Linked DNA regions of Homo sapiens. The protein of the gene in region 3 purifies or fractionates together with the protein of the main gene of each other region. This does not show direct contact. Each region holds a gene or a part of one and is shown on either strand. Other genes may lie near its edges.

Region 1 (7,293 bases), on a different chromosome or scaffold from region 3:
GTCAGCGAGGAGCATGGACGGCTTCATCAGAAGTTGACGTGACGCTTGTAAGCCAAAAATAAAATCCTAAGGCCTCCCAACCGTCTGCATGGACCCCTCTTCTCTGCCAAGGGCATTCCAGAGTTAACCTTAACATCTAGTTCAGGCCATGATGGAAGAGGGAGTCAGGCCTCTTTATATCCCTCCAGCATTAACATCAATGTAGACATAAAGTCTGATAAGAAACATTGACAGTCTATTCTCTCTGAAGCCTGATACTTGGCGGCTTCACCTGCTTAATAAAACCTTGGACTTAAAAAGTAAAGTCTTAAAAAGTAGAAAGTAAACCCCTTTCTACTGATAATAACTCTTTCAACCAATTGCCAATCAGAGAAATTTTAAATCTACCTATGACCTGGAAGCACCCCCTCCCTTCCAGCTGTCCCGCCCTTCCAGATGGAACCAATGTAAATCTTACATGTATGGATTGATGTGTTATGCATCCCTAACATGTTTAAAAGCAAGCTGTACCCTGATCCCCCTGGGCACATGTCCTTAGGACTGCCTGAGAGTATGTCACGGGTGCTCCTTAGCATTGGCAAAATAAACTTTCTTAATTGACTGAGACTGTCTCAGATATTTTGGGTTCATACCCTCATGAAACAAGGAGAGAATACCCCCACACATACAATGAAGACCTAAATGGTGTGATTTCTTTGGTAATGGCTTTGCTAAGGGCAGCCACTCTTGTAAACAGGGCGGGGTGGAGGAGGGGGTGTCGGAGGTATGGTGGGATATAAGGATGAAGTCGACCTTAGAGTCGGGGAGAGAACAAGGACAGAGATTAAATGTGCCTTCTTTAACACAGCCTTTCTGAGTCCTGACACTGTCCCAGGCACTGTGCAGTACGAAGATAAGCACGGAGAATGAAATGGCCAACTCTGTGGGGGTCCACTAGGAAGGTTCACAAAAGAGGTGACCCCCTCTGCTGTATCTTAAATAGAATTTGCCCATCACATTCGGTTGGATGAGGCTAGGAAGAATGTCCAGGTTGGAGAACATCACTTTGGAAAAGAATGGAGATGAGAAGGAGCACGGCTCAAAGTTCCAGGAACTGTCAATATTTACCAGCCTTGGGGTGGGAGTAGCAGCGTGGGAGGGGGCAGGAAACAGAGCAGGGCCAGCCTCTGAAGAGCCTCGAGTGTTAAGTACCATTTGGGAATTTGTTCTGGGGAAACAGAAGGCCACTGAAGAGTTTAATGAAAGAAGTGGCATTAGCTGGCAAGCTTGTGGAGAAATGGTTAGCAGGGCTACTGGGTTAGCAGGGAGAGTTGCTGGGGGTATTCGGATAGTCCCGGTTGGGAGCTCTGAGGCCTTTAAACAGATCACTGGGATGAAAGTGGCTACAGTCAGGTGATGGGCTGATTAACTGACCATTTAATCAGGGGGAAGATGACTTCCAACTTCCGGTTTTGGTGGTTAGGGTTGGAGCCAGGTCTCTGAAACTAGTGACGCAGGAGCAAGGGTGGGTGGGAGGGGTATGGGTGAGTCCAGTGGGGACAGAACTCTGCAACCCCAACAATTCATGGGAGGTGGAATCTGAGAAGGAGCTGCCAGAAGAATGGGATAGAAGCCCAGGAGAAGAAATATTTCCAGGAGGGGGCCGGGCGCGGTGGCTCACGCCTGTAATCCCAGCACTTTGGGAGGCTGAGGCGGGCGGATCATGAGGTCAGGAGATCGAGACCATCCTGGCTAACACGATGAAACCCCGTCTCTACTAAATATACAAAAAATTAACCGACCGCGGTGGCGGGCGCCTGTAGTCCCAGCTACTCGGGAGGCTGAGGCAGGAGAATGGCGTGAATCCGGGAGGTAGAGCTTGCAGTGAGTTGAGATCGCACCACTGCACTCCAGCCTGGGCAACAGAACGAGACTCTGTCTCCAAAAAAAAAAAAAAGAAATATTTCCAGGAGGGAGTGCTAAACTGTGCTACCAAGAGAGGGAGGGAAGAGGATGAGGGAGGACAGAAGGAGGACTAGGGGAAGTGGTGGGAGGATTGGAGAGGCTTGGGTGGCTGGAGGAAGACGGGAGGACAGAGGGGGGGATGGGAGGAAGAGGGGTGTGGGGAGAGTTGGGGGAGGATGTGGGGGCAGAGGGTGGAGGAAGCAGTGAGAGGATAAGAGGAGGATGGAGGGGATTGAGGGAAACAGCTGGAGGCTGAGGAAAGATGGGGTTGGGGGGTGGTGGGAAGGGTAGTGGATGCTGGGGGAGGCAGCCTTCTATTTCCATAGGACAAATTTGATACTCTTCTAATCCCTTCAGTGGCCTTCTATTTCCCTAGAACAAATTCCCAAATGGTACTTAACACTCAAGGCCCTTCAGAGGCTGACCCCTGCTCCATCTACTGCCCCCTCCCATGCTGCCACCCCAGCCCCAAGGCTGGCAAATATTGACAGTTCCTGGAACTTTGGGCCACCCTCCTTCTCATCTCTATTCTTTTCCAAAGTGTTGTTCCCCGACCTGGACATTCTTCCTAGCCCCATCCAACTGATGTGATGGACAAACTATACTTCAGATACAGCTGGAGGTGCGGGGGGGGGGGGTCCCTTCTTTTGTGAACCTTCCTAGTGGACCCCAAGCAGAGTTGGTAACTCCATCCTCTGTGCTTACCTCCTTACTGCACTGTGCCTAGGACATGGTCAGGACTCAGAAAGGCTGTGCTAAATAACGCACATTTAACCTGTTTCCTTGTCTTCTCCCCTACTCTAAGGTTGGCTTCATCCTTATATCCTACTGATATGGTTTGGCTCTGTGACCCCACCCAAATCTCATCTCGAATTGTATTCCCCATAATCCCCACGTGTCAAGGGAGGGACTTGGTCGGGGGTGATTGGATCACGTCAGCGGTTTCCCCCGTGCTGTTCTCGTGATAGTGAGTGAATTCTCACGAGATCTGTTGGATGTAAAAGGGGCTTTTGACCCTTTTGCTGGGCACCTCTCTTCCTGCAGCCATGTGACGAAGGACGTGTTTGCTTCCCTTTCCGCCATGATTTTAAGTTTCCTGAGGCTTCTCCAGCCATGCAGAACTGTGAGTCAATTAAACCTCTTTTCTTTATAAATTACCCTGTCTCAGGTGGTTCTTTATAGCAGTGTGAAAACGGGCTAATACACCTACCATACTTCTAACCCCCAACGCCTGACCCACCCTGCCCTGTTTACAACAGTGGCTGGCCTTAGCAAGTCATTATCGAAGAAATCACACCATTTAGGACTCCACTGTACACGTTGGGGTGTTCGCTCCTTGTTTCATGAGGGGCACACCAACTTCCGTTTTTGTTTGTTTGTTTGTTTGTTTGGAGATAGGATCTTGCCCTGTTGCCCTGGCTGAAGTGCAGTGGTGTGATCTCAGCTCACTGCAGCCTCGAACTCCTGGGCTCAAGTGATCCTCTCACCTCTGTCTCCTAAGTGGCTGGGACTACAGGTGTGCAACACCACGCCTGGCTAAGTTTTGTATTTTTGTATTTTTTTTTTTTTTTTTTTTTTTTGTAGAGAAGAGGTCTCTCCATGTTGCCCAGGCTGGTTTCAAACTCCTGAGCTCAAGTGATCCTCCGTCTTGGCCTCCCAAAATGCTGGGATTACAGGAGTGAGCCATTGTCCCCACCCCGCACCAACTTCTGATGAAGTCAGGCTCCTTATTGGCTTTTTCCTGAGTTGCCAGGTTGACACATTGGTGGGTGCTTTTCGATGGTTCGCAACCTACGCACGTCGTAATCATCCTTGGACCTTTTCAAAAATCAAGATTGACGCTTGTTGGCAGCAAGGCCTAGGAATGTGGAGGCTGAAGGAGGTGAGGGGAGGTGCTGGGAGACCTGGAAGGAGTGTGAACTACAGGCCCCGCGAAAGGCAGAGGTCTCGCTCCTGGATCCGGAAGAAGGCTGCTGAGCGGGCTTTCATTTCTTATGTATGTGCAGTTTCTTCTGAAGATATAATTGATGTTTATTTCTCTGAATAAGCTTGATTATAATGGAAAATAGGGATAATAAATTAACTGTAATAAGAGTGACATTGACACTGAAAAACCTTGCCTGGGGCGCTTGTCCTGGGTGTCCCCGCCCCGCGGCCCCTCCAGCCCCGCCTGCTCTACGCCCCGCCCCGCCCCTCCCCTCCACGCCCAGGGGGCGTGGCAACCCGGAGTCCCTCCCCTACCCAGGGCACGTGATCTGTCAGTTCGCGGAGAGGGAAGAATATGGCCGCCGGGTGTGGTGAGGGCGACGCGCTTGCAGTCGCCGTCTCTTGCTTCCCCGTCCTCTGACATCGCCTGCAGCCGAGCGGGCCCGTTCCGCCGGAGCTGAGGACCAGGTTGGGAGACCGTCAGTGTGGAGGCCGGTCCGCGAAGCTTTGCCGCGGGATTGGGGAGGAGTCGGGGGCGAGGCCGGGCTCGGGGAGTCGGGCGGGGAGGTGGGACAGCCGAGGAGTGCGCGGAAGGGGCGAGCTCGGACCGGGGGTCCCGGGGAGGGCATGGCGCGGGCCCCGGACGCTCGGGCCCCGGCTTTCGGGGCGAGTCCGCGTTTCCTGGAGCGCCGGGAAGGTCTCCGACCTTGGAGTCTCTGGTGGTCTGTCTCCTGAGGGGCCCCTCGGGTGGGTTGGGGTGAAGGGTGTTGGTAAAACCGTTTTTTTTCTTTTGCCAAGCAGCCTCTGGCACATCCACCACCTTGAGAGCCCCCTTAGCTGGTACCGCTAGTCTTTCTAGGTTCCTCCTCCTAGGCTTCCACGGGCCGGGAGGTGTTGTTTTCTCCCTTGCTTTTATCGTGGGCTCCATTGCTCCATTGTCCTGTGCAGGCTTTTAAACGCCTGGCAAAATAGTGCAAGCCATTGATTTCCACGCCTCCAAGATTTATTTATAGGGAAATAATTTCTTCATCACTTTGTAATGTTGGAATTTTTATTCTTTCAAGTTGACAGGTTTAAACCGATGAAAAATTTTTTTATGAATAACTATGCAGCCATCTCTGCTCCCTATGGGCGCTTGTTAAAAATGTAGATTTCTTAGCGTTTTAGAGATTCCCATTCCTTCGGCCTGAGGTGTGGCTCGGGAATCACCCCTTCAGGTTCGTTCCTGTCCACATTTTGACAACACTGAGGACCAGACATCTACACCTTTTTAAACCACCGTGGGGTATTGAGTGCAGAGCCCAGGTTGGGAAATGCCGTGGCCAGGTGTGTTCTTTGTTCTCTTCTAGCTTTACTAGCATGGACTACTTTCATCAGAATCATTTTGGGGTGCTTGTTAAAATGTCAGTTTCTGGGCACCACCCCAGATCTAGGGAATGGGATTCTCCCGGGGAGGAGCTCAAGGGATATGTGTATTTGACAAGCTTCCCAAATAATTTTGGTGCACACAAGTTTGAGAATCCTTGTTCTACACCCTTTGTGTGAATAATTTCCAGATCATTCACACACAGTGTGAACGGTATCTTTTTCCAAGTATTGGGTGGGTTTCTCCAACCTAGTTCTTTTGGGACACTTCAAATTCAGCCTGGCCAAAGCCCCATTCGCCCAGCTGGGGTGGTGGAAGGGAGGAGGCATAACTTAAGTAGAGAAAAGTCTGCTCTTTCTCCTGCTTTTTTTTTTTTGGTTAAGGGCAGCTCCATTCTTCAGTCACCTATGCTGGGCATCTGGTCATCTTCCACCTGTTTTCTTTTCCAACCAGTCACATAGTTTTATCTTTATATCCAGAATATCTCTTCTGGATATTTTGGTAGTTCAGAAAGTTCAAATGTCAGGGATTTTATATTTTTCAAGTTAATATCCCTCATTTCTTCTCTATTCCCACTGCCTCTCTTGTGTACTGTCTGGTGATTCCTTGACTGGTATCTAGGGCCCTGATTCTTTGTATTTTTCCAGTCTGGGTCACATACACTGCCAGATTAATTTTTATAGGATCATGTATGAATGTGCCATCCCCTTCTTCCTGCTTTTGCTCAAGAACGGTCAGTTTCTCCATTTTATGTGCTACTGTATTTGTCAGGGCTGTTTAGAAGACAGTAGAAACTTAAACCTTTTACTTCAAGGAAAAGGAGATAATAGGATTGAATGAGAGTCAGAAAGAAGTCAGGATCCCAGGTACCTCCATTTTCTACATCTCCCTGGGGCAACTTTTTTTTTTTTTTTTTTTTTTTGAGACAGGGTCTGGCTCTGTTGCCCAGGCTGGAGTGCAGGTGGTGTGATCTTGGCTCACTGCAGCCCTGACCTCCTCTTAGGGGCCACATTTGTTCTCTTACTTAGGAGGAGTCTCTTTTCTGTTCATATCTGTTGTATTCTCTCTTTGCTGATTGGCTGTCTCAGAACTGTATCATTTTATGTGTGACCCATATTGATTGGCCCAGTCTCTGGTTTCTAATTCCCAGTTCTAGAGAGAGAAGTCTGATTGGCCCAGCTTATCTTTTTCAACAGTTTCATGCCACAGATCATATGCCCATCCCTGGGAATGGCTGATGCTAGAGAACATGGCTGTTGAGGGTAGCAGGGGCTGTGGGTGGGCAAAGTCCTTCAGAAGAGGTATCTTTAGCATACCTATGCAGTTATTTAATTTGATGGTTATCTATTAAGTTTCTACCTGTTCTAGATCTGTAATAGGTTCTGGGGATGTAAGAATGAAGGAGAGAGACAGCCCTTAATAAATTAGTTCAAGGCTGGGCATGCAGGCTCACACCTGTAATCTCAGTGCTTTGGGAGGCTAAGGCAGGAGGATCACTTCAGGCTAGGAGTTCAAGAGCAGCCTCGGCAATATAGCAAGTCCTGTCTCTACAAAAATTAAAAATGTAAACAATGATCTGGGTGTGTTGGCATGCACCTGTAGTCCCAGCTATTCAGGGAGGGTGAGGCAGGAGGATCGCTTGAGTCCAGGAGTTTGAGTCTGCAGTGAGCTATGAATGTGCCACTGCACTCCATCCTGGGCAATAGAGCCAGACCCTGTCTCAATAAAAATAAATAACTAAATACATACATACATACATACATATACATACATAAGTTAGTTTATAGGTGACCCGCGAGGGGGGTTTTGAAGGGTGTGTTTTGGCTTGTTAAGAATGTTAAAGTTGGGTCAGGCATTACAGGTGGTTGGATCAGCTTGGGCATGTCCATTCATTCTACCGATACTGGGTTCTGTGGTGTACCAGGCACTTCTCTTAAGTGCTGGAGATTCAGCAGTAAACAAAACAGATAGTCTTTATTCTCATTGAGCTACATTTGTTTGGCTAGGGGAAGCAGACCAAAAACAAAGTATGTGGTATGTGGAGTGATGCTAGGTGT
Region 2 (7,472 bases), on a different chromosome or scaffold from region 3:
TTTTGGTAGAGCTGGGGCTTCACCATGTTGGCCACGCTGGTCTCAAACTCCTGACCTCAAGTGATCTGCCCGCGTCAGCCTCCCAAAGTGCTGGGATTACAGGCATGAGCCACTGTACCCAGCATGCAGCGTTTACATTCAAGTGCTCATTAAGAAAATAAAAAGTCCTGCAGTGAGAAATTTGTAATACATATAATGGATAAAAAACTGATGTGTAGAATTCACAAAGAACTCCTACAAAATCAGTAAGACATAAAACCTAGTCAAAAAATGGGAAAAAGACTTGAATCAGCATTTCATAAAAGAGGAAATACAAATTAACAATAATCAAATAAAAAAAGTGAAACCTCATTAGTCATCAGGGAAATGTAAATTAAATCCATTATCATGATACCACTAAACATCCACTAGGATTGCTAAACCTTAAAAGTTTAACAATACCAAGTGTTGATAAGGATGCAAAAAAACTGAAACACTGAAACACTGCTGGTGAGAATATAAACTGAAACAACCACTTTGGAAAAATGTTTAACAATACCCATTAACGCAGAACATGTATATACTCTATAATCAGGCAATTCCAATCCTTAATAGATATCCAAACAAAATTAAACACACACAAACAAACACATACATCTAAAGGGACACATACAGCATCAAAAGACACACAGCAGCACTTTTCATAATAACCAAAAAACTTCAATGACCATTAATATTAAAATGGATAAACAGATTGTGTTATATTCATACAATGAACTATTGTACAGGAACGGGAATAAACTACTACTACACACAACATGGATGACTCTCACAATAATACAATGTCAAGTGAAAGATGCCAGACTCATGAGTACATACAGTATTATTTCACTCACATGAAGTTCAAAAATAGGCAAAACTAATCTATGGCTCAGTATAGCAGTTATCTTTGGGGTATTAGAAAATAACTGAGGGGGATGAGGGAGATTTCTTGGGCACCAGTAATTCCTATTTCTTGATCTAGTAGTGATACCATGTGTGCCTTTTTTTTTTTTTTTTTTTTTGAGACGGAGTCTCACTCTGTCACCCAGGATGGAGTAGAGTGGCACGATCTTGGCTCACTGCAACCTCCGCCTCCCGGGTTCAAGCAATTCTCCTGCCTCAGCCTCCCAAGTAGCTGGGACTACAGGCGCATGTTACCATGCCAGCTAATTTTAGTATTTTTTAGTAGAGATGGGGTTTCACCATATTGACCAGGCTGGTCTCGAACTCTTAACCTCATGATCCGCTCCCCCCTCAGCCTCCCAAAGTGCTGGGATTACAGGCATGAGCAACCGCACCTGGCCAATGTGTGTCTTTATTTTGTGAAAATTCACTAAGCTGAACACTTAAAATTGTGCACTTCTCTGTTACGTTTCAATAAGTTTTATTATATGTGAAAAAAAAGGTCCTGGAAAACCAACATCCATTGATATGACAGTTTTCTGGACCAACGGTAGTCTTCTGGAAGACTGAGTGAATCCAATGATATACACAGTGTCAAAACAGCTCCCCTAGACTCTCAACAATGTGATATGTTATTTACATGTCATGCAGTTTTGTCACATGACTTTTTAGAAATCTCGTTTTTATAAAGCAGCTTAAATCTGGATTTTGCAAAAACTCAAAGCCATTTACAGTACTTTATTTGTAACAGCATGTTATCAGTAAATTTGTTTAGTTGTGTTCTAAACTCTTGTTTTTCTAATCAGCTTTGATTATTTAAAAAAAGTGGCTTCTCATATCAGTTATATGTTTGATAGCAAAATCTGAATTAGAAATACAAGAAGTTCACAGGTTTCCTTAATAGTATAGATTATTCTTACCTCAGTCTTGTTCACTCACTAACCAGCTTCCCACTGATTTTTTACCTAGTTACACTGGAGAAAAAGAACTATGCCTGGGTAACAGTCCCAAACTATACTCTATAAGGGCTGAGTGAGCAAAAGCAGCAGGGGGTGACTGAAATGGCAATGACATAAGCTAGTTAGGGGAAACGTTTTCAAAACAAGGTGGATAATGTGAGTAGGATCCAATTCAAGGATTAAAAAGCCATCCTTATCAAAGCTGCAGATGAAAATGCTGAAGAGGGATATCACATACCTAAAACAATATAATCATCATTGACCAAGATTTCAGCAGACTGAAATGATGGTGCAAACCTAACTAGAAAACAATCTAAAGAGAAATGTAAAGTCTTAGAAAAAGGAACAAGAAAAACAAAAACAAAAAACCAACCACACAAGTTCAGGATAAGAGAGACTTGGCTTAATAAAAGCTAATGTGAAAAAGACCTGGGAAGCTAGATTGATGTTAAGTTCAACAAGAGTCAACACTGTGAGAGTGCTGAAAAAAACAAACAAAAAAGCAATTTGTTAAGCTATACAATATAAGCACATTATTTATAATGAAGTTGGTACTAGGCCCATGCTCCTCTGCATCTGAAGTAAGTGTTCATTCTGAAGGAGACTAACAAACTAAAGGCCCTTCAAAGGACAGTGAGCAGTACAGCAGGATGAGGTTAGAAACAATGTTAAGATGAAAAGAATCTGAGTTGTGATTGGCAGAGCAAACTGGGTGAGGTAGGGTGAGGGAGACATGAGGGTAATAGTTTTTAAATAACTGTAGTGACATGCTGTAGAAGAGGCATAGGATAATTCATTCTGTGTTGCTCCAGAGGCAAATCTAGAATCAACAGATAAAAGTTAAAGAATCACATTTAGGTTCAATGTAAAAAACAAACTTTCTAGAATCAATGCCTTATATGGCAGTGTTCCTAATCACAATGCCAATGTTAAGCATACAACTGCTCATCACAGAAAGTACAATGGACTTAAAGTGGGTCAGAAGTCCTTGGATTCTAATCTCATCTTGACCATTTACTAGCTGTGTTATATGAGGCAAGGTATTTACAACCTCTCTGAATCTCAGCTTTTCTTATGTATTTATTTACCTCCTGATATCACTAAGAGGAATAAATAAGATGATATGTGCAAGACTCATTGTGACAAACTGAAATGGAATACAAACGTGCGTTGCCGTAGACAGATATATTAGATAATTGCTAATATCCTCCCAGCACAGAGATTATTAACTTGAGAAGTTATTTTCTTCTGAAGACAAAACTTAAAATAGGTCCTAAATTCACACAGCCAAGATTTAGTAGGCAAAGAGAGAAAATATTAACATGACGGAAATCAAGGGAGCAGGAAATGTATGTTTCATGAGGTGTTAAGAATGTACTTCTCTGATAGCAAATTAGTTACCAGATCTAAAAGGCAATGCTCATTCCAGGAGATTAAGAACGAATTCAAATCAAGATGATACACATGCCAAATAAGCACTGACAGTATAGGCTTGAATCATGGCAGTAAACAGAGCTTAAATAGTACTTTTGCTTTGGGGACCCTCTAGACTCAACTGTACCTATTCTGGGGTTCTACTCACTCTGCTAAATAATCCTGACTGAGCAAGTTACGCAGTCCTCTCAGTGCCATTTTGTTAAGAGTAAATGGAGAATAATCTGCCTACTTCACAGGTTGTTGAGAAGACTTCCATGAGATAATAATGTGTGTAAAGTCTCTAGCAAGGCTTCTTGGTACACAGAGGAATTCATGTTAATTGCCCTTTCTCTTAACTTTGATTGTGGATGGAGTTTTGTGCCACACTGCTTTCAGAATTATAAGCTTGGGGAATAAAAGATATATTTTGTTTTCAAATGTTAAAATGAGGTTGAAAAAAATGATGATGTAGATCCACTGATACTGAGATGAAAATCTAAGCAATACGCAGATTGGTGGAAAAATAAGTTATAAGATAATCTACTCAGTATGATCCCATTTCTGCAACATATATTTTTAAAATGATTCTCTCCAGATGGTGGAATTAGGTGACTTTCACTTTTTTCTACACTTTTCTGTAATGTTTGAATTTTGTATAAGGAGTACCCATTTCTACTACAATTCCCAACTGAGAAAAAAACTGATTAAAGTATTTTTCTGGCTGAGCGTGGTGGCTCACACCTGTAATCCCAGCACTTTGGGAGGCCACGGCAGGCAGGGAGGCCAAGGCAGGAGGATCGCTTGAGCCCAGGAGTTTGAGACCAGCCTGGTCAACATAGGAAGATCCCCATCTCTACGAAGTATTTTTTAAAAACTGGCCAGATGTGTTGGTGCGCACCTCTGGTCCCAGCCACCTGGGAGGCTGAGGTGGGAGGACTGCTTGAACCCAGGAGGAAGAGGCTGCACTGAGCCATAATTCTATCACTGCACACTAGCCTGGGTGAAAAACCGAGACCCTGTCTCAAAAAATAATAATAATTTCCATAGAAAAGTTATCATTTAGGTCAACTTGGGGAGAAAAATCTATTTTTACAAACTTGGAAAAAATGAATTTAACAGTTTTTAGAAGGTAAAGAGAAAAAACTTACACACCAGCAATTTTTTTTCTTTCTAAATATGTTGTTCAGGATAAACAGAAGTATCTCCTTAACTGGGGAAAATATAAAGGATGTAAGCTCCATGGGGGCAGGAATTTTATGTGTTCTGCTATATTCACTGCTCTAAGTACAAGAGCAGGAACTTAAATATTTGCTGAATGGATAAAATAAAAGTCCTACTTACCTTATGCTAAATTTCACTGCCTCAAGCCAGTAGAATATTGGCTTATTCATCTTTATCTCTAACAACTAACAAATTATCTAACAAATAGTAATTGCCAATTCAATTATTTGTCAAATGAATGAAAAAGCAAACAAAAGATAAAGTTTAATATTATTTTTAAAGCTAATAAGTCAATACAAAATGATTAGCATTACTCTACAATACTACATTCATTCTGGATTATAATCTCTACATATAGGACAAAAGCAGAGACATCAAAGAAATGGGGGCATGTTACCTTTTCTAGATTACATACGTGATGTCTTAACAAGCAGACAATATAAGTACAAAGAGAGTATAAACATTGTATAAATGAAGCTTTTTATACCATCGAGAACCAAATAGCCTAAGTCAATAAAATAGCCAAACCAAAAAAAAAGAGAAAAAAAAGCAGACCTACCTTGGGCCTCTTGGACTTTCCAAGTAACTACTTCTAGGAGGATCTGGAAGCAGGCCACCTGATCTCACTGGCATGTCCTTCACTGCAGTGATTGGCTGAGATGGAGCAGCTGAAGACTCCCCAAGTCCTTGATCAGATGAGAATGAACTGTATGGCAGAGCAGACTTGCTCAAAGGAGCTTTTGAATTCACTTGTTCTGATGGACCAGCTGATTGCAACGGAGGATGGTAAGTTGTCGGTGGGGCAGAACCAAAAGACACAGGAGTAGGAAGCAGTGCTGGTCTAGGTTTCTCTGGAACTTGCGAGCTCTGTGAACTGGAGGCTGGTGGAACTGGGGCTGCTGTTAACTGAGGAGGTATCCCTTGTGGAACTCCAGGGGGAGGTATTCCTGGAGGAGGTGTAGCTGAAGACAATGGTGGGAGGGGCATGACAGGTGGAGGTGCTGTTGAAGAGAGAGATGGTGGGGGAAGAACTGGTGGTGGCCCTGCAGAAGACAGGGAAGGTGGGGGGAGAACTGGTGGTGGCCCTGCAGAAGAGAGAGAAGGAGGCATCCCTGGTGGGGGAACAGAGGTTGGTAGAGAAGGTGGCATAACAGGTGGGGGCATGCCAGGTGGTGGCACTGTAGCAGGGAGGGCAGGGGGCATCACTGGTGGTGGCAATGAAGGAGGCAACACTGGAGGGGGCATTGTAGGTAGAGGTGGAGGCATCTGAGAATATGGAACAAAAGGAGGTGGCATTGACATGTTCCCCATATACTGGTTCTTCATGTTCTGAAATGAATTGACTTTCTCCTGGAGATAGCTCTGAGTGGCTTTCATATGTCCCTGCCATGTTTTCCACTGCTTCTCATACTCCTGAAGCTGATCTTTATGAGGATAGGAATGGAGTTGTTCCTCCCATAGCTGAAACTCTCGCTCCCATTCTTGGTAAAGATGTTGAAACTGTTGCTGCTGCATCTCATAATGCCGCAGCTGCATATCTACAGACATGGTCTACAAATAAAGGGATAAAAACTATTTAAAACCATTCATATAAGATAATTAATCATAGGTTAAAATATTAATGAATCAAGGGCATTTGACGCTTTAGGAAATTAGAACACTAAAGACTTTGGGAGGCTAAGAATAAGTTCGTTAAGTTCTTTGAGTGATGATCATTCTTCTTCCTTCCTTTGGCTTAGACAACTTACTACAGAGTTGGAAAAACCAACCAAACAATAAAGCAAATACCTATCTTAGCAATAAGTATTTTTCAAGTTTTTAATATGGATAATTTCAAGAACTTGAAAAATGATCTGTTATTATAGATATACAGACACAACATTACCCCTCAAAGATACAACACAAACAAGTATCTAAGTCACTTTATCTTTTACGGTATATTTGCTTAGGTTTTTTGTGATGGCTGTTTTTGGCCTCTTTGCTTATCTGTTACTGTTGTAGTTTACAGGCAAAACACAGGTTAACCTGTAGCTATATGGTAAAAATCCCCAGCTCTTAAGACCCTTAGCAATAGTAAGCTAACATCTGGCCTGGGTTGACATGATCAGGAAACTCTACTATAACCAACCCCTCCCCAGTCCCCCAGGTAATGTGGCAGATAACTACTTGGGCACCCCTTGGGAAACAACTAATTGTCAACAGTTGGTATCTTTTGTTTTTTACACTTAAATCTTTCAAGAATAACAAATCCTTTCAATGTCTTGGGGCAACTTCCTATTGTGGACTATGGAAGCACTTGCCTGTATATGTGGTGGGGGCTGTATAATCTGCTGATACTGTTGTAGAATCTGCTGTAACTGAGTGTGCTTCTGCATTATTCCCTGATACTGGAAACCGACTCGATGCTGCTGGTGCTGCTGCCAGTGTGCTGCTGCAGCCTGCAACTGCTTTAACCTGGCATCTTCTTCTGGGTCCTCAGACTAAAGATAAAAGAGGACACATCTTTATGTAAGTCATAAAACAGCAAGCAAAAATATTTTATAAATGTATTATAAAGTCCAGAATCCCTACAACTCAGAAATATCCAACTGTCAAACACAGTATCTTCAGTTCTTTTTGGATTGAGAACAGCTATTCTATCTTTAGATAAAACACATAGCTCTATCTATACTATTATGGATACTAATACAAAGGAGTTTATAAATTCCATAGTCTTCACTGGAATAATAATCTTATTATTCCTAAATATGACAACAATTTTCCCAGTGGAAAGTGGTCCCAGGCCGGGCACCATGGCTCACACCTGTAATCCCAGAACTTTGGGAGGCCAAGGCGGGTGGATCACTTGAAGTCAGGAGTCCAAGACCAGCCTGGTCAACATGGTGAAACCCCGTCTCTACTAAAAATACAAAAATTAGCCAGGCATGGTGGCAGGTACCTGTAATCTCACCT
Region 3 (7,504 bases):
CAGAAACACATATAATGACAAATTTAACTGCATGTTGGACTTGCTTCTGCCAATCTGATTCTAGCATTATGGATAGACAGGAACATGTAGCAAAGGGGTTATAATGTCACTCTACTGACTGAACAATTGAACAAATTAAAATCTGCTCCTTTTTCTAATCGATTCCCCTGGCTTTCCTCCATTACGTGGGCAGATTGGCTATGAAAGGGTTTTGAAATCCTTGTTTGTACCCTTATAGGATTCTGTCTCCTTTATTTCTGGCAAGAAACTTAGGCACTGCAAAATAACATACAATTTTAATTATAAGACAACATTGGGCCAGGGGATGGACTGTTATATGCATGAGCCAAAGATAGTCTCTATATATTGATTCTGCCAGTACCAAACTCAATTTTTTACACATCAATTGTTTTAAATATAGACCAATAAGTAGATTGTTAGCCATTTAGAGGCTGCCTTCTTTGCATGTCCCTGTGAAACTACAATCATCTGTTAGCTATAGATAGGATAAACTCCAGGAGATAAAAACCCTAACCTACTGCTGCCCTTCAGAGATCTCTGACCCAGCAACTCCCTGTCTTGCTGCTGAGAGACATCGCTACATGTATAAGCCATCTCTTTGATTCCCCTCCCTCTCTCCAGTTAGCTTGTCCTCTCATTTTCTAGGTTGTGACCTCCCACCAGCCTCTGGAAGATCTCAGACTTTGATTAACCCCATGCCCTTGCAAACCTGTCAAAGGGTTGACCAAATGAAACTCGTATGCTTATACACTGTTGGTGGGAATGTAAATTAGTAATAATAAACACTATATATAGTTCAACCACTATAGAAAGCAGTTTGGAGATTTCTCAAAGAACATAAAACACAACTACCATTCAATTCAGTAATCACATTATCGGGCATATATCCAGAAGAAAAGAAATCATTCAACCAAAAAGACACATACACTCATAGTTGTTTGCAGCCTTATTAACAAGAGCAATGACATGGAGTCAACTTAGGTGTCTATCACTGATATTTGCTAAAGAAAATGTGGTACATATATACCATGGAATACAACACAGCCATAAAAACTAATGAAATAATGTCCTTTGCAGCAACATGGATGCAGCTGAAGGCCATTATCCTAAGCGAATTTACACAGAAACAGAAAACCAAATACCATATGTTCTCATTTATAAGTTGGAGCTAAAGATTGGGTACTCATCAACATAAAGGTGGCAAAAACAGACACTGGAGGACTATTAGAAGGGGGAAGAAGAAAGGGGGTCATGGGTTGAAAAACTGTTGAGTATTATGCTCACTACCTGGGTGATGAGATCATCTGTTTTCCAAACCTCAGCATCATGCAATATACCCATATAACAAACCTGTGTATGTATCCCCAGAATCTAAAATAAAAGTTGAAATTCTAAAACAGACAAACAACAAAAACTCATTGTGTGTTACTGAAAACGTGTGGTAGTATATATTTTTCTTGATCAGTCCCCAAATCTCTTGCACTCACTTGTTTCCTATATTTTAATTCTACATATAAATTACACAAAACATATTATTATTATTGTTTTACATTGTCAATATGTCTGTTTACCCACATATTTATCCTTTCTATTACTGTTCGCTTCTTGCATCTCTTCAGTTTCAGAGGAGAACCTTTCAGTATTTCCTCAGTGTGGGTGTACTGGTGATCAATTTACTCAGCACTGATTTCTGAACATGTATTTATTTTGCCTTCATTTTTGATGTACTATTTCAGTAAGTTCAGAATTCCAAATTATCAGCTTACAAATCATTAAATTCCTTAAGTGACAAACTTGTATACAATGTAAGACTCACCTCTTTGCACTTCCCTTTTTTCTGAGATCATTACTCTTGAAGTCCTCATTGCCTTTATAGGTTTCTGATGCTATATTGGTAGCCTTTGTTGCCATAAAAGGGTTTCTTTACCTAAATTTCTGGGGTTTTTTTTCCGCAGGGCTGCTGCAATCAACTATACATTATTAGAAATGGAATTCTTTGATATCATTATAATGACTTACTGGTATTCCATTTTTAGTACCATAATTTCTTCAAATACTCTTTAGTTATTTAACATTCATTTAGTTTTCAGCTCTGTTATACTAGAACAAATTATATAATAAAAGTTATTTTAGCTAAATATTTGCACATATATCTTATTATTTCTTTAGAATATATTTCTAGAGGTAAAAATTTTTAGTTTATAGGTTTGAACAACTTCAGGGTCTTTAAAAATCACTGTACCCTAGGTTAGGAATATCTGTTGCTAAAGCTTAGAAATATCTTAGGTTTTTTTGTGCCTCCCATTCTGAATAGGCCCCAGGCATAAAAACTGCATTGGACTTCACAGAACCGAAACTGGTTATTCATATAAGGGATTGCTTCTCCAATTGGAGACAGAGATGGTGACACATTGTGACTGTAGCCAGTTATTTTCCCTTTCCTAAAGACGTATTAAAAAAAAGTATTGGAACCAACCCAAATGCCCATCAATGACAGACTGGATAAAGAAAACATGGCACATATACACCATGGAATACTATGCAATAAAAAAGGATGAGTTCATGTCCTTTGCAGGGGCATGGATGAAGCTGGAAACCATCATTCTCAGAAAATTAACACAAGAACAGGAAACCAAACACCACACGTTCTCACTCATAAGTGGGAATTGAACAATTACAACACATGGACACAGGGAGGGGAACATCACACACCAGGGCCTGTCAAGAGGTGGGGAGATAGGGGAGGGATAGCATTAGGAGAAATACCTAATGTAGATGATGGGTTGATGGGTGCAGCAAACCACCATGGCACGTGTATACCTAGGTAACAAATCTGCACATTCTGCACATGTACCCCAAAACTTAAAGTATAAAAAAAAAGAAAAAAAGACAAAAGTATACTCCCAGATTTTTGAGAAGATATAAAGAAAGACAACATATAATAAATGTTTGCAGCAAGATATAAACATATCAATAAAGGGTCAATAGTGGTAAGCTGAATTGTAGTGGTTGTGTGAGTGTCAGAAAGTTAGTGTTTTCCCTCTATCTCTCTTCCTCTCTCTCTCTCCCCTACTTCTAAAAACAGCCTGCCCGTCCTCTTCAGTGTTTTCTTTCTTACTCACTGCTGCCGTGCTACTCTCAGTTGGAATGATTTTCTCATCCTTGTCCTTTTGGTAAATATCTACCCACTCATCTTTTTAAACATCTCCTCTTTTATGAAGCCTTTTCTGCATCTACAGGTAGAACTGACCCTGCCATCCCCTGCATTCTTTACAAACTTCTAGAAAATTTAGCTTTACTTTTTCTCTGACTCCCATTTTTACATCGGGTGCTCCTTGATGACAAAGAGATTAACTGTAACTTCGGGATAGATGACCAGTGTTTGTTGAGTGAATGAATAAAGGGATCAGGGTTGGATCTGCTCAAAAGTGCTAGAGTAATAGAGCAAAACAGAGCAGGTAACACATCCCTTAACACTCGGTATCTCAACTGACTTTCACAAAAGCTCTATTAAATGAGCAGGTGATTGTGGAGTGAAAGAATTAAACAAATTTTCAAGAGTTTTAGTGGCTTTCCCACTAAAGCCTGGGTGACTGGGAAAGTTTGGGCTGGGAATGTTGGGCTTTTCAAGCGTGTTCGAAGCTCCCTAATTGGTACTAAATTTCAGGCATTCAGACCCTCTAGGAAAGAGTTCTTTCTAGCTCACAACATTAGGGGAGGAGTTAGACACATAAATGGAGAAAGTGATAGAAGAGACATGGTCAGGGATGGGGGTTCTACCCTTCCAGAGACAATGCACATTTTCTTTGAAACAGCTTCGGGAAAACTGCAAATCTCAATGATATTTACCAATTTTGAGAATCTATTAAGTGCCTGGCACTCTGTGTAGAAGCCCTCCAATCGTACCCTAAATCTGAGAAGTATTTATTATTATTTCCATTTTTACTCCCTAATGCATCTACTCTAAGCTCCTTGCTTCACCCTACCAAAGTTTCCCTTCTGCTAGTGCTCTCCTTTGGTGCAGAACCACCGCATCCACTTTCTCAGGCCCAGGGGAGGGGCGGGGCGGGGCGATTTCGCCTTGCCGCAGAGCCAGTCTGCGCCTGCGCGGACTGCGGCAGAGGGCGGGGTGTGAGAAGCAGAGTACAGTGAGACTAGCATTCACTGCTGGCCAGTGCCTGCCTTTTTCACCACCTCTAATTTCAGCTTCAGCAGTTGCTTGGAACTTTGGTTCTGGCAGCAGCAGCAACATCATTACCGCTAGCGGCAGTTTTGTGCCGAGGCACCTACACACCTCCCGTCCTCTCTGCCAGATCGCGGGCCTGTCGGTGTCTGCTCCTACACGCCAACGCCGGTGGGCAGGACCATGTCTCTGGTAAGCCAGAATTCGCGCCGCCGCCGCCGCCGCGTTGCAAAGGCTACTGCGCACAACAGCAGCTGGGGCGAAATGCAGGCCCCTAATGCCCCCGGTCTCCCCGCTGATGTGCCAGGCTCAGACGTCCCCCAGGGTCCCAGCGATTCCCAGATCCTCCAGGGCCTCTGCGCCTCTGAGGGCCCAAGCACCTCCGTTCTGCCCACCTCCGCTGAGGGCCCAAGCACCTTTGTGCCGCCCACCATCTCTGAGGCCTCAAGCGCCTCCGGGCAGCCCACCATCTCTGAGGGACCTGGCACCTCCGTGCTGCCCACCCCCAGTGAGGGCCTAAGCACCTCCGGGCCTCCCACCATCTCTAAGGGGCTGTGCACCTCTGTGACGCTTGCCGCCTCTGAGGGCCGGAACACCTCCAGGCCGCCCACTTCCTCTGAGGAACCTAGCACCTCCGTGCCGCCCACCGCCTCTGAGGTACCGAGCACCTCCCTGCCGCCCACCCCTGGTGAGGGAACGAGCACCTCCGTGCCGCCCACAGCCTATGAGGGACCAAGCACCTCCGTGGTGCCCACCCCTGATGAGGGACCAAGCACCTCCGTGCTGCCTACACCTGGTGAGGGACCAGGCACCTCCGTGCCGCTCGCCGCCACTGAGGGCCTGAGCACCTCCGTGCAGGCCACTCCTGATGAGGGACCGAGCACCTCCGTGCCGCCCACCGCCACTGAGGGCCTAAGCACCCCCGTGCCACCCACCCGTGATGAGGGACCGAGCACCTCCGTGCCGGCCACTCCTGGTGAGGGACCGAGCACCTCCGTGCTGCCCGCCGCCTCTGACGGACAAAGCATCTCCTTGGTGCCCACCCGCGGTAAGGGATCAAGCACCTCCGTGCCCCCCACCGCCACCGAGGGCCTGAGCACCTCCGTGCAGCCCACTGCTGGTGAGGGATCGAGCACCTCCGTGCCGCCCACCCCTGGTGGGGGACTGAGCACCTCCGTGCCGCCCACCGCCACTGAGGAGTTGAGCACCTCCGTGCCGCCCACTCCCGGTGAGGGACCAAGCACTTCCGTACTGCCAATCCCCGGTGAGGGACTGAGCACCTCTGTGCCGCCCACCGCCTCTGATGGATCGGACACCTCCGTGCCGCCCACTCCTGGTGAGGGCGCAAGCACCTTAGTGCAGCCCACCGCCCCTGACGGACCGGGAAGCTCCGTGCTGCCTAACCCTGGTGAGGGCCCGAGCACATTGTTTAGCTCTAGTGCTTCTGTGGACCGGAACCCCTCCAAGTGTTCCCTTGTTTTGCCAAGCCCTAGGGTAACCAAGGCCTCCGTGGACTCAGATTCTGAGGGTCCTAAGGGTGCAGAAGGCCCTATAGAATTCGAGGTCCTGAGAGACTGTGAGAGCCCCAACTCCATTAGTATTATGGGCCTCAATACTTCCCGGGTTGCAATTACCCTGAAGCCCCAAGACCCTATGGAACAGAACGTAGCTGAGCTGTTGCAGTTCCTGCTGGTGAAGGATCAGAGCAAGTACCCTATCCGGGAGTCTGAAATGCGGGAATATATTGTTAAAGAATATCGCAACCAGTTTCCTGAGATACTCAGGCGAGCAGCAGCCCACCTGGAGTGCATTTTTAGGTTTGAATTGAGAGAACTTGACCCTGAGGCACACACCTACATTCTGTTAAACAAACTGGGACCTGTGCCCTTTGAAGGGTTAGAAGAGAGCCCAAATGGGCCAAAGATGGGCCTCCTGATGATGATTCTAGGCCAAATATTCCTGAATGGCAACCAAGCCAAGGAGGCTGAGATTTGGGAAATGCTCTGGAGGATGGGGGTGCAGCGGGAAAGGAGGCTTTCCATTTTTGGGAACCCAAAGAGACTTCTGTCTGTGGAGTTTGTATGGCAGCGTTACTTAGACTACAGGCCAGTAACTGACTGTAAACCAGTGGAGTATGAGTTTTTCTGGGGCCCAAGATCCCACCTAGAAACCACCAAGATGAAAATTCTGAAGTTCATGGCGAAAATATATAACAAAGATCCTATGGATTGGCCAGAGAAATACAACGAAGCTCTGGAAGAAGATGCTGCCAGAGCCTTTGCTGAGGGTTGGCAGGCTCTCCCTCACTTTAGGAGGCCCTTTTTTGAGGAAGCTGCTGCAGAGGTACCATCCCCTGATTCAGAGGTTTCCAGCTATTCCTCAAAATATGCCCCACATTCATGGCCTGAGTCAAGATTGGAGAGCAAGGCAAGGAAGCTGGTGCAGTTATTTCTGCTTATGGATTCAACTAAGCTGCCTATACCAAAGAAAGGAATTCTGTACTACATTGGCCGAGAGTGCAGCAAAGTGTTCCCTGACCTCCTGAATCGTGCTGCCCGCACCCTGAACCATGTCTATGGGACAGAACTAGTGGTACTTGATCCCAGGAATCACTCCTATACTCTGTACAACCGAAGGGAGATGGAAGAAACTGAGGAGATCGTAGACAGTCCAAACAGGCCTGGCAACAACTTTTTGATGCAGGTCCTAAGCTTCATCTTTATTATGGGCAACCATGCCAGGGAGTCTGCAGTCTGGGCCTTTCTGCGGGGCTTAGGGGTTCAAGCTGGGAGAAAGCATGTGATTACCTGCAGATACTTGAGTCAGCGCTATATAGACAGTTTACGGGTTCCTGACAGTGATCCAGTGCAATATGAGTTTGTATGGGGTCCTAGAGCCCGTTTGGAAACCTCTAAGATGAAAGCCTTGCGATATGTGGCCAGAATCCACAGAAAGGAACCACAGGACTGGCCACAGCAGTACAGGGAGGCAATGGAAGATGAGGCCAATAGAGCTGATGTTGGGCACAGGCAAATCTTTGTTCACAACTTCAGGTAGAGGAATGCATGGCAGTCAGAGGGGCCTTGCAAGGAGGGGCCTTTGAGCCTCAGTTCTCATGTATTGGGGGGTGGGGGTGGGTACATATTGTATTTGGTATTTGTGTTCCAGTTATATTTATGTCTTTTCATATTTAGTTCTGGTGTGGTGTCTGGAAATGTTTCAACTGTTTTAATATATTGTCTGATTGGGTAAATGTGATTGACCACTTGCTGTCTCTGTTGTATTTTGGTATGAGTTTTG

The links. The genes of interacting proteins can lie anywhere in the genome.
Region 1: the proteins of MAGEE1 (region 3) and KIDINS220 purify together in Homo sapiens (affinity purification with mass spectrometry; 2 studies listed by BioGRID and IntAct, with this or other methods). This does not show direct contact.
Region 2: the proteins of MAGEE1 (region 3) and YLPM1 purify together in Homo sapiens (affinity purification with mass spectrometry; 2 studies listed by BioGRID and IntAct, with this or other methods). This does not show direct contact.

The regions. Positions count from the first base shown.
Region 1 is NC_000002.12:8,834,525-8,841,817, reverse strand, and holds the start of KIDINS220 (kinase D-interacting substrate of 220 kDa), read left to right. Parts: upstream 1-4,204; 5' UTR 4,205-4,338; intron 4,339-7,293. UniProt on the Homo sapiens protein: Promotes a prolonged MAP-kinase signaling by neurotrophins through activation of a Rap1-dependent mechanism. Provides a docking site for the CRKL-C3G complex, resulting in Rap1-dependent sustained ERK activation.
Region 2 is NC_000014.9:74,779,933-74,787,404, reverse strand, and holds part of YLPM1 (YLP motif-containing protein 1), read right to left. Parts: intron 7,001-7,472; coding exon 6,821-7,000; intron 6,072-6,820; coding exon 5,080-6,071; intron 1-5,079. UniProt on the Homo sapiens protein: Plays a role in the reduction of telomerase activity during differentiation of embryonic stem cells by binding to the core promoter of TERT and controlling its down-regulation.
Region 3 is NC_000023.11:76,423,544-76,431,047, forward strand, and holds the start of MAGEE1 (melanoma-associated antigen E1), read left to right. Parts: upstream 1-4,166; 5' UTR 4,167-4,387; coding exon 4,388-7,261; 3' UTR 7,262-7,504. UniProt on the Homo sapiens protein: May enhance ubiquitin ligase activity of RING-type zinc finger-containing E3 ubiquitin-protein ligases. Proposed to act through recruitment and/or stabilization of the Ubl-conjugating enzyme (E2) at the E3:substrate complex.